Linked DNA regions of Homo sapiens. The protein of the gene in region 3 purifies or fractionates together with the protein of the main gene of each other region. This does not show direct contact. Each region holds a gene or a part of one and is shown on either strand. Other genes may lie near its edges. The genes, in order: SMPDL3B, CEP89 and CEP15.

The links.
Region 1: the proteins of CEP15 (region 3) and SMPDL3B purify together in Homo sapiens (affinity purification with mass spectrometry; one large-scale study listed by BioGRID and IntAct). This does not show direct contact.
Region 2: the proteins of CEP15 (region 3) and CEP89 purify together in Homo sapiens (affinity purification with mass spectrometry; one large-scale study listed by BioGRID and IntAct). This does not show direct contact.

The regions. Positions count from the first base shown.
Region 1 is NC_000001.11:27,941,307-27,945,040, forward strand, and holds part of SMPDL3B (acid sphingomyelinase-like phosphodiesterase 3b isoform 1 precursor), read left to right. Parts: intron 1-968; coding exon of another isoform or gene 969-1,058; intron 1,059-3,734. UniProt on the Homo sapiens protein: Lipid-modulating phosphodiesterase. Active on the surface of macrophages and dendritic cells and strongly influences macrophage lipid composition and membrane fluidity. Acts as a negative regulator of Toll-like receptor signaling.
Region 2 is NC_000019.10:32,875,233-32,878,000, reverse strand, and holds the end of CEP89 (centrosomal protein of 89 kDa), read left to right. Parts: 3' UTR 1-2,076; downstream 2,077-2,768. UniProt on the Homo sapiens protein: Required for ciliogenesis. Also plays a role in mitochondrial metabolism where it may modulate complex IV activity.
Region 3 is NC_000003.12:62,332,522-62,336,021, forward strand, and holds part of CEP15 (centrosomal protein 15), read left to right. Parts: intron 1-733; coding exon 734-868; 3' UTR 869-3,500. UniProt on the Homo sapiens protein: May play a role in ciliary assembly.

The DNA.
Region 1 (3,734 bases), on a different chromosome or scaffold from region 3:
ATAAGAATCCCTATCTCACAGACTGGCTGCCAGGATGAAATAAGACCAGTGTATGAAAGTCTGGGCACCTATCCAACACTGTCTGAGTGCCTACAATTCTAACTGGCCTCCCCACAGCCTTGTTCATTCATCGAATGTGCATTTGCACGTCTTCCACGTCCCAGGCACCCTTCTAGGCACTGAGGACATAGAGGTAAACAAGACGGGCTTGGTGCTCTCATGGAACTGACATTGTAAACAGGGAAGATGGACAATAAGCAAGCCAACAAGGTAAGTTCACATGTGATAGTGCTCTGAGAAAAAGGAAGCTGGGGAAGAAATAGCGACCAGACAGGCAGGAGAGGTGGCACTTGAGATGAGGTGGTCAGGGGAGTCTTCTGAGGAGGTGACCTTGGGGCAGAGGCCTGAATGAGGAGGAGGCAGCCGCATGATGATGTGGGAAGATTGGGCGAGGCCATGGCGTAGTCAGGGAAGAGGCCCTGTGAGGAGAAGCAGCTTGGCTGAGGGTGGTGGGTTGGGCTGAGCTGACAAGGTCGCTGGGATCTGCACTCCCACAATGAGGAGGCTGGACCCCAAGGAGTTGGAGCTGCCCACCTGGACCCCAAGGAGGTGGAGCTGCCCGCCTGGACCTCTGGCTCTCTCCACCATTCTGTCCACTAGCCTGGCCTCTCCTGGAGTCAGCACACACACATGCACACACACAGACACACACGCACACACACATAAACACACATGCATGTACACACACCCTTCAGCAGTATGTGCCAGAGAGGCTGGAAAGTAGTTTCAGTTCTACACACTGGCTGGAAAACGACAACTGACAGGTGAGATGAGGAGTTTCTGGAGTGGAGAAATGTTCCTGAATACTTTGAGGGCTGACGTCAAAGGGGCCAAACTGCTCAGTGTTTGTAGTTAACTGAGAAAGAGCCAGCTTGAGGCAGGGGAATAGCCTCTTTCTCTGTCTGCAGAGGAAGCGCAAGGACCATGTGCCCAAGAGAAAGGCAAAGGGCCTCCCCCAACATCCATCCTGGCCAGCCTGGCTCCGGGCTTGGAAGCAGGTGAGAGCCACTCACGGTCTCAGCTCAGGGACTTGGGATGCCCAGCAACTCTGCCCACCAACTAACTGGTATGAGGCAGTTCATTCCTTTACTCTGGCTTGGGGTTTTGTCACTGTATTCTTTTTAATTTTTTTGAGACAGTCTTGCTGTGTCGCACAGGCAGGAGTGCAGTGGTGCAATCTCGGCTCACTGCAACCTCCGCCTCCTGGGTTCAAGCGATTCTCCTGCCTCAGCTTCCCAAGTAGCTGTAGCTGGGATTAAAAGAGTGTACCACCATGCCTGGCTATTTTTTTGTTTTTTGTTGTTGTGTTTTTTTTTGAGATGGAGTCTCGCTCTGTCGCCAGGCTGGAGTGCAGTGGCACAATCTCGGCTCACTGCAACCTCCGCCTCCTGGGTTCAAGCAATTCTCCTGCCTCAGCCTCCTGAGTAGCTGGGATTACAGGCGTGAGCCACTGTGCCTGGCTGAATTTTATTTTCTGTAGAGACGAAGTCTTGCTTTGTTGCCCCTGCTAGTCTTGAACTCCTGGCCTCAAGCAATCTTCCTGCCTTAACCTCCCAAAGTGCTGAGATTACAGGTGTGAGCCACTGTGCCACCATGCCTGGCAGGAATATATTAGTGATCACAATATGTGTGGAAAGGTTAAATTTTCCCCATTATAAACAAAGGCTCAGTTTGGATAAAAAATAAAAATGTGGGAATATGCTGTCAACAAAAAGACCCATCTAAAATAGAAAGGCACTGGTTTTTAACCCCTTTCACAATCACATCTTCCTGGGAGGGATTGGAGCCCAGAGATCCCCATCATTTACCATGTGATCTTAGGCATGTTGACCTCCAGACCTTAGTTTCCTTATCTGTAAAGTGGGATAATGTTCCCAGGGCTCTGCGGAGAACACTGTAACAATGCATGTGGGAGGGATAATGATTTGCTTAATCAGCCATTTACACTTTAGTATGAATGTGTTTCACATCCTTTCCTGAGACTGTTTAGATCAGGAGAGGTGGGGAAAAGCTCAAGAGCATCTGGGAGGGAAAGTCAAGGAGTGAGGGTCAGGGGCCAGCCTTTATCTGCAGGCTGTCCACTGAATGTCCTGTGGCCTGGGTGGGGCCCTGGCTATCCAACCCTGAGATCAAAAGAAGTCCAGTCTCCCAGGCCCAGACACAGCTTCTTGGGGCCAGTGATGTTGACTTGTGGCTCTAGGTGACACAAGAAATGGGGGAGGAAGTGATTGCAATAGCAGAGGGTGAGGAAATCCTGGGCGTCATTCTTGTTTTATCGAGAAACAGGATGAACAGAGGCCAGATCTGCTCAACCCTCCTTCAGTAAGCAGTCATTGAAACAACTTGTGCTGGCCAGGTGCGGTGGCTCACGCCTGTAATGCCAGCACTTTGGGAAGCTGAGGCGGGCGGATCACCTGAGGTCAAGGAGTTTGAGACCAGCCTGGCTAACATGGCGAAACCCCATTTCTACTAAAAATACAAATACAAAAAAAAAAAAATTAGCTGGGCGTGGTGGCGCATGACTGTAATCCCAGCTGCTTGGGAGGCTGAGGCCAGAGAATCACTTGAACCCAGGAGGCAGAGGTTGCAGTGAGCCGAGATTGCACCATTGCACTCCAGCTTGGGCACAGAGCGAAACTCTGTCTCAAAAAAAAAAAAAAAAAAAAGAAACTACTGTGCCAGGCCGTGTTGGGTTCGCATGAGAAGTCTACTCCATCTCACCTGTTTCTTTGGATTCCTTTCTCTTTATTACACTGTGAAGTTTTTTGCCACTTCAGCCTCCTTTGGTCGGAAACTGAGTCTAGGTTTCGGTCAATCACCTCAGCAAGCAGGACCACTCCCAGCTGCTTGAGCCACACCTTGGATCCAGAATCACCAGCAAATATACCTACCAGAGGAGGTCAGCCCGATCTGAAGTGGCGTTCCTTTTTCCCTGGTCTAGTACTCTTATACTCACTTCCACATGTAGTCCCCAGGTTTTTGCTGTTTTTGTTTTGTTTTGTTTTGGAGACAGAGTCTTGCTCTGTCACCCAGGCTGCAGTGCAGTGGCATGATCATGGCTCACTGCAGCCTCCACCTCCTGGGCTCAGGCGATCCTCTCACCTTAGCCTCCTGAGTAGCTGGGACCACAGGTACATGACCCCACACCCGACGAATTTTCTAAATTTTGTGTAGAGATGAGGTCCGCCTATGTAGCCCAGGCTGGTCTTGAACTCCTGGCCTCAAAGAATCATCTTACCTTGGCCTCCCAAAGTACTGGGATTACAGGCATGAACCACTGCACCCGGGCTTTGCTGGTATTGCTTAGCAAGGTTTTCCAGCTCATTTGGTGTGTAAGCCTTTTCCATCCAGGTCAGACTTTTTTCTTTTTTTTTTTTTTTAATTTTCCAAGAAATTCCAGGACAGGTCAGATTTTCATATGTAGTTATATTTCCCTGCAGCATGAGAGGATATGGCTCTAGTTAATGGGCTTAGAAAAGTGACATAGCCCAGGTCACACAGCTCCTAAGTGGCTCAGAGCCTGAGCACTTAACCCATACCCTCTCCCGCCTTTGCTTTAAAACAAGCCCCCTCATTAGAATGCCTGAGCTCTAATGTTGTGGCTGCCCATCCAATGTGGGGAGGAGGACGGGGCCTTGCCAAAGGTCAGCGCTCAGGGATGGAGCTGAGCCTGT
Region 2 (2,768 bases), on a different chromosome or scaffold from region 3:
CGAGACCAGCCTGGCCAACATGGTGAAACCCCATCTCTACTAAAAATACAAAAATTAGCTGGGCATGGTGGTGGGTGCCTGTAATCCCAGCTACTTGGGAGGCTGAGGCAGGAGAATTGCTTGAACCTGGAAGGCGGAGGTTGCAGTGAACCAAGATCACGCCATTATACCCCAGCCTGGGCAGCCTGGGCAACAAGAGCGAGACTTTGTCTCAAAAAAAAAAAATTTTTTTTTTGGTAGAGATGGGGTCTTGCTATGTTGCCCAAGCTGGTCTCAAACGTCTAGCTTCAAGCAATCCTCCTGCCTAGGCCTCCCAAAGTGTTGGGATTATAGGTATGAGCCACCGCGCCTGGTCTGGGAAGGTAATTGATTCTGGAGCCACACAGCTCCCCACCCATGTAATGAGAGCCCTGGCTTTGAGCTAAGATAGAGTCCCTGCCCCACTGCCACCACCAAGAAGCATACCAGGGGGCCATGGTTCTGTCCCATGTGTGTTAGATGACGTGCCACCTCCTCAGGAAAATTACCCCAGCCGCTCAGGACCATTCAGTCCCAGGCATGCTGGAGGGACTTGGGGACATTGGGCTACAAAGGACCCTAACTGTGGGACTCAGGGGTGGCACCCTGCAGCATCTCCTTTTCAGAGCCCCTCGCAGTGAAGTCCTGCCTTGTTTCAGGTGGGAAGGAGGCCCCAGTACTGGTCCTTGGTCATGTGTAGAAGTTCTACGTGTGATCTTTGATTGCCAGACGGAAGGGTGAGATAGAAAATCATAGTTCTTTTATGACTCTATAAGCTTGTTCAACAGTTGAATCATTGTAATTTAATTTTATTTTACAAGCGGTAGAAAGACTCACTGGGATTGAAAACTGTGTATCATCTCCCTAGGAGATGACCTAACAAATAACTGTGATGCTATTTCAAAGGCATTTACGGCCGCTCTGCAGCCTCCTGTAGACAGGCTGACAGGCGGCGGCAGCCCAGCGTGGCTGCGCGGGGCAGGAGTGCTTGTCAGCAGGAATGCTGCTCCCGCCATCGTGACCTAGAGAACCACTGTTGACATCCCTGTCTTTCTGCCTTTTATGCAAACATTTTATTCTTTTGAGAAGTGTCCACTTTTGTTCTTATGTTTCTGCTTTAAGTTTTTCACACAGTGCAAACATACTTTGCAAGTATGGGGACTCCTGGATGGCACTGTGACCAGGGCAAGGGCAGGTGTCCCACAGACACTATCTTCTGCCCAGCCTCCTGCTGGGTGCCATAGGAAATGGGCAGAGAAGCCACGAGTCCAGGATGCCAAGGAGGGCGGGGCAGGCAAGGCAGAGAGGCACCTGGGTGCTTGTGAGATTCCAGGAAAGGACAGAAACATTGGGGTGCTTCTGGGAGGAACTGGCACGCCCCGGCCCTTGCAGAGTGGACAAGGTTTCAGGAGCTACAGAAGGGTGGAGAGGGCCCCCAGGAGCACAGCAGGCACTCAGAGCAGCAGGAGGGGGTTTGGTCAGAGCTTGGGTGGGAAATGAGGCCGGACTGCACAGAGGAGAACTGGGTCTGCTGGGAGGGGCTCCTCCTTCCCCATGCTGCAAGTGTCTGGTCTGAGCAGGGAACCCTTCTCTTTCTTGGTCCTGGTGAGGTTTCATACGGCATTGGAAGATTCCTGGTCAAGCAGCTGTAGAACATGACCCAGGCACGCGAGTGAGCCTTGCTGGCTTTGCCATTATTTAAAAGCAGCCCTGGGCATGGTGATGGCGCCTATGGTTTCAGCTACTCAGGAGGCTGAGGTGGGAGGATCACTTGAGCCTGGGAGGTTGAGGCTGCAGTGAGCTATGATCATGCCACTGCACTCCAGCCTGGGCAACCAGGTGAGACCCTGCCTCAAAAATAATACAATAAAAAGTAAAAGCAGCCCTGGGGAAATGGAGACAGTGGACAAAGCAGGCTGGGGCACCAGGTGTGCATGTGGGTGTGAGTCTGTCATGAGAGCTGTCCTGAATGCCCTTAACGCCACTGAACTGTATGCTGGAAAACAGTGACAACAGTGGATTTTGTTATATAGACAATTAAAAAAGAAATAACACCCAGGCCTGCTTCCTGAGTGTTTGTGTCATTTTACTTTCCCACCACCAACCTCCGCGCAAGTTCCGGTTGCTCCGCATCCTCATCAATGCTTGGTGGTGTTGTCAATAACTGTGTTGAGAGGACAGAGATTTAAGGCCGAGGGTGGCCTAGCATTTAGCCTCGAGCGCAGCTGTCACTGGCTCCTCACCCCCTCCCCTACCTGTATCGTTGGCGGGAATGAAAGGCACAGTCCCCAGTGTGGGTGGCTCAGGAGAGCCCTCCCTGGGCCCAAGCAGCTCTTCCAGCAGGGAGGGCTTGAGCCGGATACAGATCCCACAGCAGGAGGCTGAGCCTCTTGGGATGGGGCTGGGCTGACATCTGAATTCTTGAGTAAGACTGGAAACATCATCCACTCAAAACTTGGCTGGGCGGCATGGGGAGGGCTCAGTGTGCCCAGGTTTGTGGCACCTCTCTGCTGGGTCACAGCTGGGCAGGGGTCCACAGGTAAGGAGTGGCTGCAGCCAGGAGTGGGAGAGGGGATGGGTACAGCTTGTTAGGCCTCTCTTGGTTTTCTCAAGGTGTGAGTCCATGGCCCCAAAGCTGGGCAGGAAACCTGCTGCCCTTCCAGCCTCCCAGGCTTGGCTTTTTTTTTTTTTTTAGTTGAGACAGTCTCGCTCTGTCACCCAGGCTGGAGTGCAGTGGTGCGATCTCGGCT
Region 3 (3,500 bases):
CCTCCCTAGGGCAGTCACCCAAGAAACCAAAGCTAGACACAACACAGCAATGTTTCATGAGCTTCTAAAGCCTATAGACTTCTACAGTCAGACCAATAATACAGCATCTCAACTTCCAAGCTATTTGTATTAAAAATGGTTAAATTATATTGACATTTTGTCATCACAAAAATGGGGAAAAATTATAGTGGATATATATTTCCTACACAATTAAGGGTCCAATATCTCTAATTCCTGTACTATAACACACTAGTTGTATTTCAGTTCCTGATCTCATCCCAGGTCAAATCTTTTGATGTTAATCCTGAAGCATGATTTATGTTTGATAATTTCATTGTAATAATTTCAGTATGGGGTAATCATTTGGTATGGGATTTGGAATATTAAACAAAAACATTTAATGATTATATCACCATAAATGATACTATTAGCAATAATCATGAAGTTGGCCACAAGAGGGCGTGTAAAATCACAATAAAATTCTAAAACCTGTAATTCTGCCAGGCTCTGGTTTTACTGAGAAATTTGAAAATTAACACTAGTAAGTAGCCAGATTTTTTTCTAAAATTAACATAAAATATTCTGTAGAGGAAATGCATTCTACATATATGTGTGTGTGTGTGTGTGTGTATACACGCATACACACTCTTAAGTGAATAAACATTTAGACTATTATGAAGAGCCAAGTTCAATTGCTTGATATGCTTTTTTACTTTTGGATTTTTTTTTCCAGACTCGTTACTGGGCATCAGTAGAAGAATATATTCCCAAATGGGAACAGTTTCTTTTAGGAAGAGCACCATATCCTTTTGCTGTTGAAAATCAAAATGAAGCAGAAAATACCATTCAAAATGAGGCACAGCGATAACTTCTTCACATGCTATTTCAAAAAGCCTGTTTAATAAAGCTGAATGTTAAGGTGTATGTAGGTTATTGCAGGAACTTTAGGAATTAAATATGTTCATATTCTTCGATTATCTCCTAAGTGACAGTGAAGATATGAGAATTTACTGGCAAGTCACATGTTATCACCTACTACTATTTCAAGGTCATGAATTTGCTTTCTACCAAACCCATAGATGTGTTAAACACGAATATTAAAAGGTGGACTCTTTATTAATTAAATTATTGTCAGTGTTGTGAGTGTGTTGCTTTAAAAAAAAAAAAATTTACAATCATTCTCCTCTAAGCAGGTATCTTGGTTCTGGTTTTAAGTTAAGTTTTTTAGAATCCTTACTTTTTAGGGACAAGGTATAGGATCAACATGGTTCTTTTTTTTTTTTAAACCATTATTGTTTCTTTTAACAAATTAAAAGACAATGACACCTAAACTGCTCTAGCAAAATAACTTATGAGAAAATAAATTCATAGGATTTTGTCCCTCACAGATAGCCAAAGCTCTGCAAGTTCTGGAGACAGAAAGAACTGAACTATAAAGCAGTCAATAAGTAGCCAGTTTCAGGAAGACTCAGACTTGGTTTTGAAAAAGGATGCCTTTTAGAGCTGGGAAAGGTTATTGGATTTTGACTTGGTTATTTAAAGATTGCCAACCTTGTGAATGCAAATAACCCCACTCTTGTCTTTTCATCTTTAAACTTCCCCTTCCCGCTTCCTTCTAATTTCATTATTCCTGAAAAAACTGTCAGTCAGAAAGCGTTGGGTCACAACCCTAAACAGCTTTGAGATTCCTCAGTCCACCACTGCTTGAGCACTTAAAAAAAAAAAAGAAAAAAAAAATATGTATATATAACTTTCCAGCTATAGAGGCAGCCTCTGCTAGTAAAGGGTACCTATGCTATATTACAATGAAATGTTTTAAATTTCAAACTGGTTTATGTTTTTAAAAGAAGACAATAGGAAAAGCTAAATACACAGCAACAACAACAACTATATTGAAACGTCCGTTGTGCCGATAAGTTCCTTTAAACTACCATCTTGGAAATATCCTGTTGAGTGGGTGTTGGTGTGGGTAACAATAATGTTGTTTTCATAATATGTGCTGGCAGATTAGCACACTTCTCTACAGTGTTAACAGTTGTAATTAAGGAATAAACAGCACAGGGTGTCAGTCCGATGACAATTTCATCTATAGTGTCACAATACAAAATGTCACAAAATATTAGAACTGTTATATAACTATAAAAAGTATCAGCTTAAAAGCTAAAAGCCTTTGAAAAAAGAAGACAGAGGAAGGAAGAAAAAAGAAAACTGGCATAGCAACCAGAACAATTTTATACCTTCTCAAGAATGTTCTGTCATGAAAATAAATTGATAATTTTTTTCTGTTACATTACAGTTTGGTTTCTAGCCATCCAGTTGATTTAGCAGGAGAATGCAGGTTTTTTTAGCAGCTTTGAATTGGTAAACAGATTTAGATGTAGTAGAAAGGAACATGAGGAAGTTGTTTTTTTTTTTAACATCCAATCTTTCCCAGCATATGCACATAAGAAGGTGAATGAAGCAATGTGAAACTTACTTCTCTTTAGTCAAGTGAAAAAAAGGCTAAACATTTGTTAGATGGTAAAATATTGTGTCAAGCGAGTAGGCAAATTCCAAAATTACACAGTGGTTGATACATTAACATCCTCAAATATTTGAGCATGCACTTCCTTTGAGATCTGTAAATTAAATCACCAGTGGGTTAGATAAAAATACAAAACAAATGGCAATCTAACCATCTCAGAAAAGGTTCAGGTTTTTTTCTCCCTAAAACTGAGAACTTGCTAAATAATTTTTGAAAAGCATAAACGTAATACACCCTGGGTTACGATCGAGGGCAGAAGGGAAGGCATTTCCAAGGCTCCTGCTGTAGTGTTTTTCCCATTTTTGTTAATACCTCAAAAACTCCCAGAGATGACTTTATTCCTGGCCCCTGCAGAGCTCCCCTCCCCACCCCCACCTTGTAGACTGTAACAGATTGCACCACATGGTGTCTGTTTAAAAAAAAAAAAAAAATTCCCATAGGGACCTGGATATCCCATTAATGGGCTTTATGTTCCTCATGGCAAATTAGCTTTACACAGGAATTTCCAAACATTGTTTTCTGTTAAGAAGGGAGGAATACCATATATAATGTATATTTTTTCTACAATTAGTAGGAATCAGACAAGGAAAAGGAAATGTCATCTATTCATACCTTTCTCTCCAAATTCAGTGTTCTTTCCATATGCTCCATTGTACTCCACCACTCTTCTCCATGAAAACTATGAATTTATGGTTTTTTTTTAGAAAAATGGAGTTTTCAAAATGAAAGTCAAATAATTTTTTCCAAAGCCGTTTGTGGACTGTTGCAAATGCATAAATATTCAAAGCTCATTTTCTGCAGAAACACTTCTGGTATATGAAATTATTAAACTGTAGAATGCTAAAGATCAGAAGAAGCTACAGTTTTTCTTTAAACTTGAAAAAAAATTAAGAAGTATTAAGGAAAAAGCTTAATACTCTGGAAACCAGACATCTGGTCTTTCTCATGCGTAGGGAGCAGTGTGAATGAAAGTGAA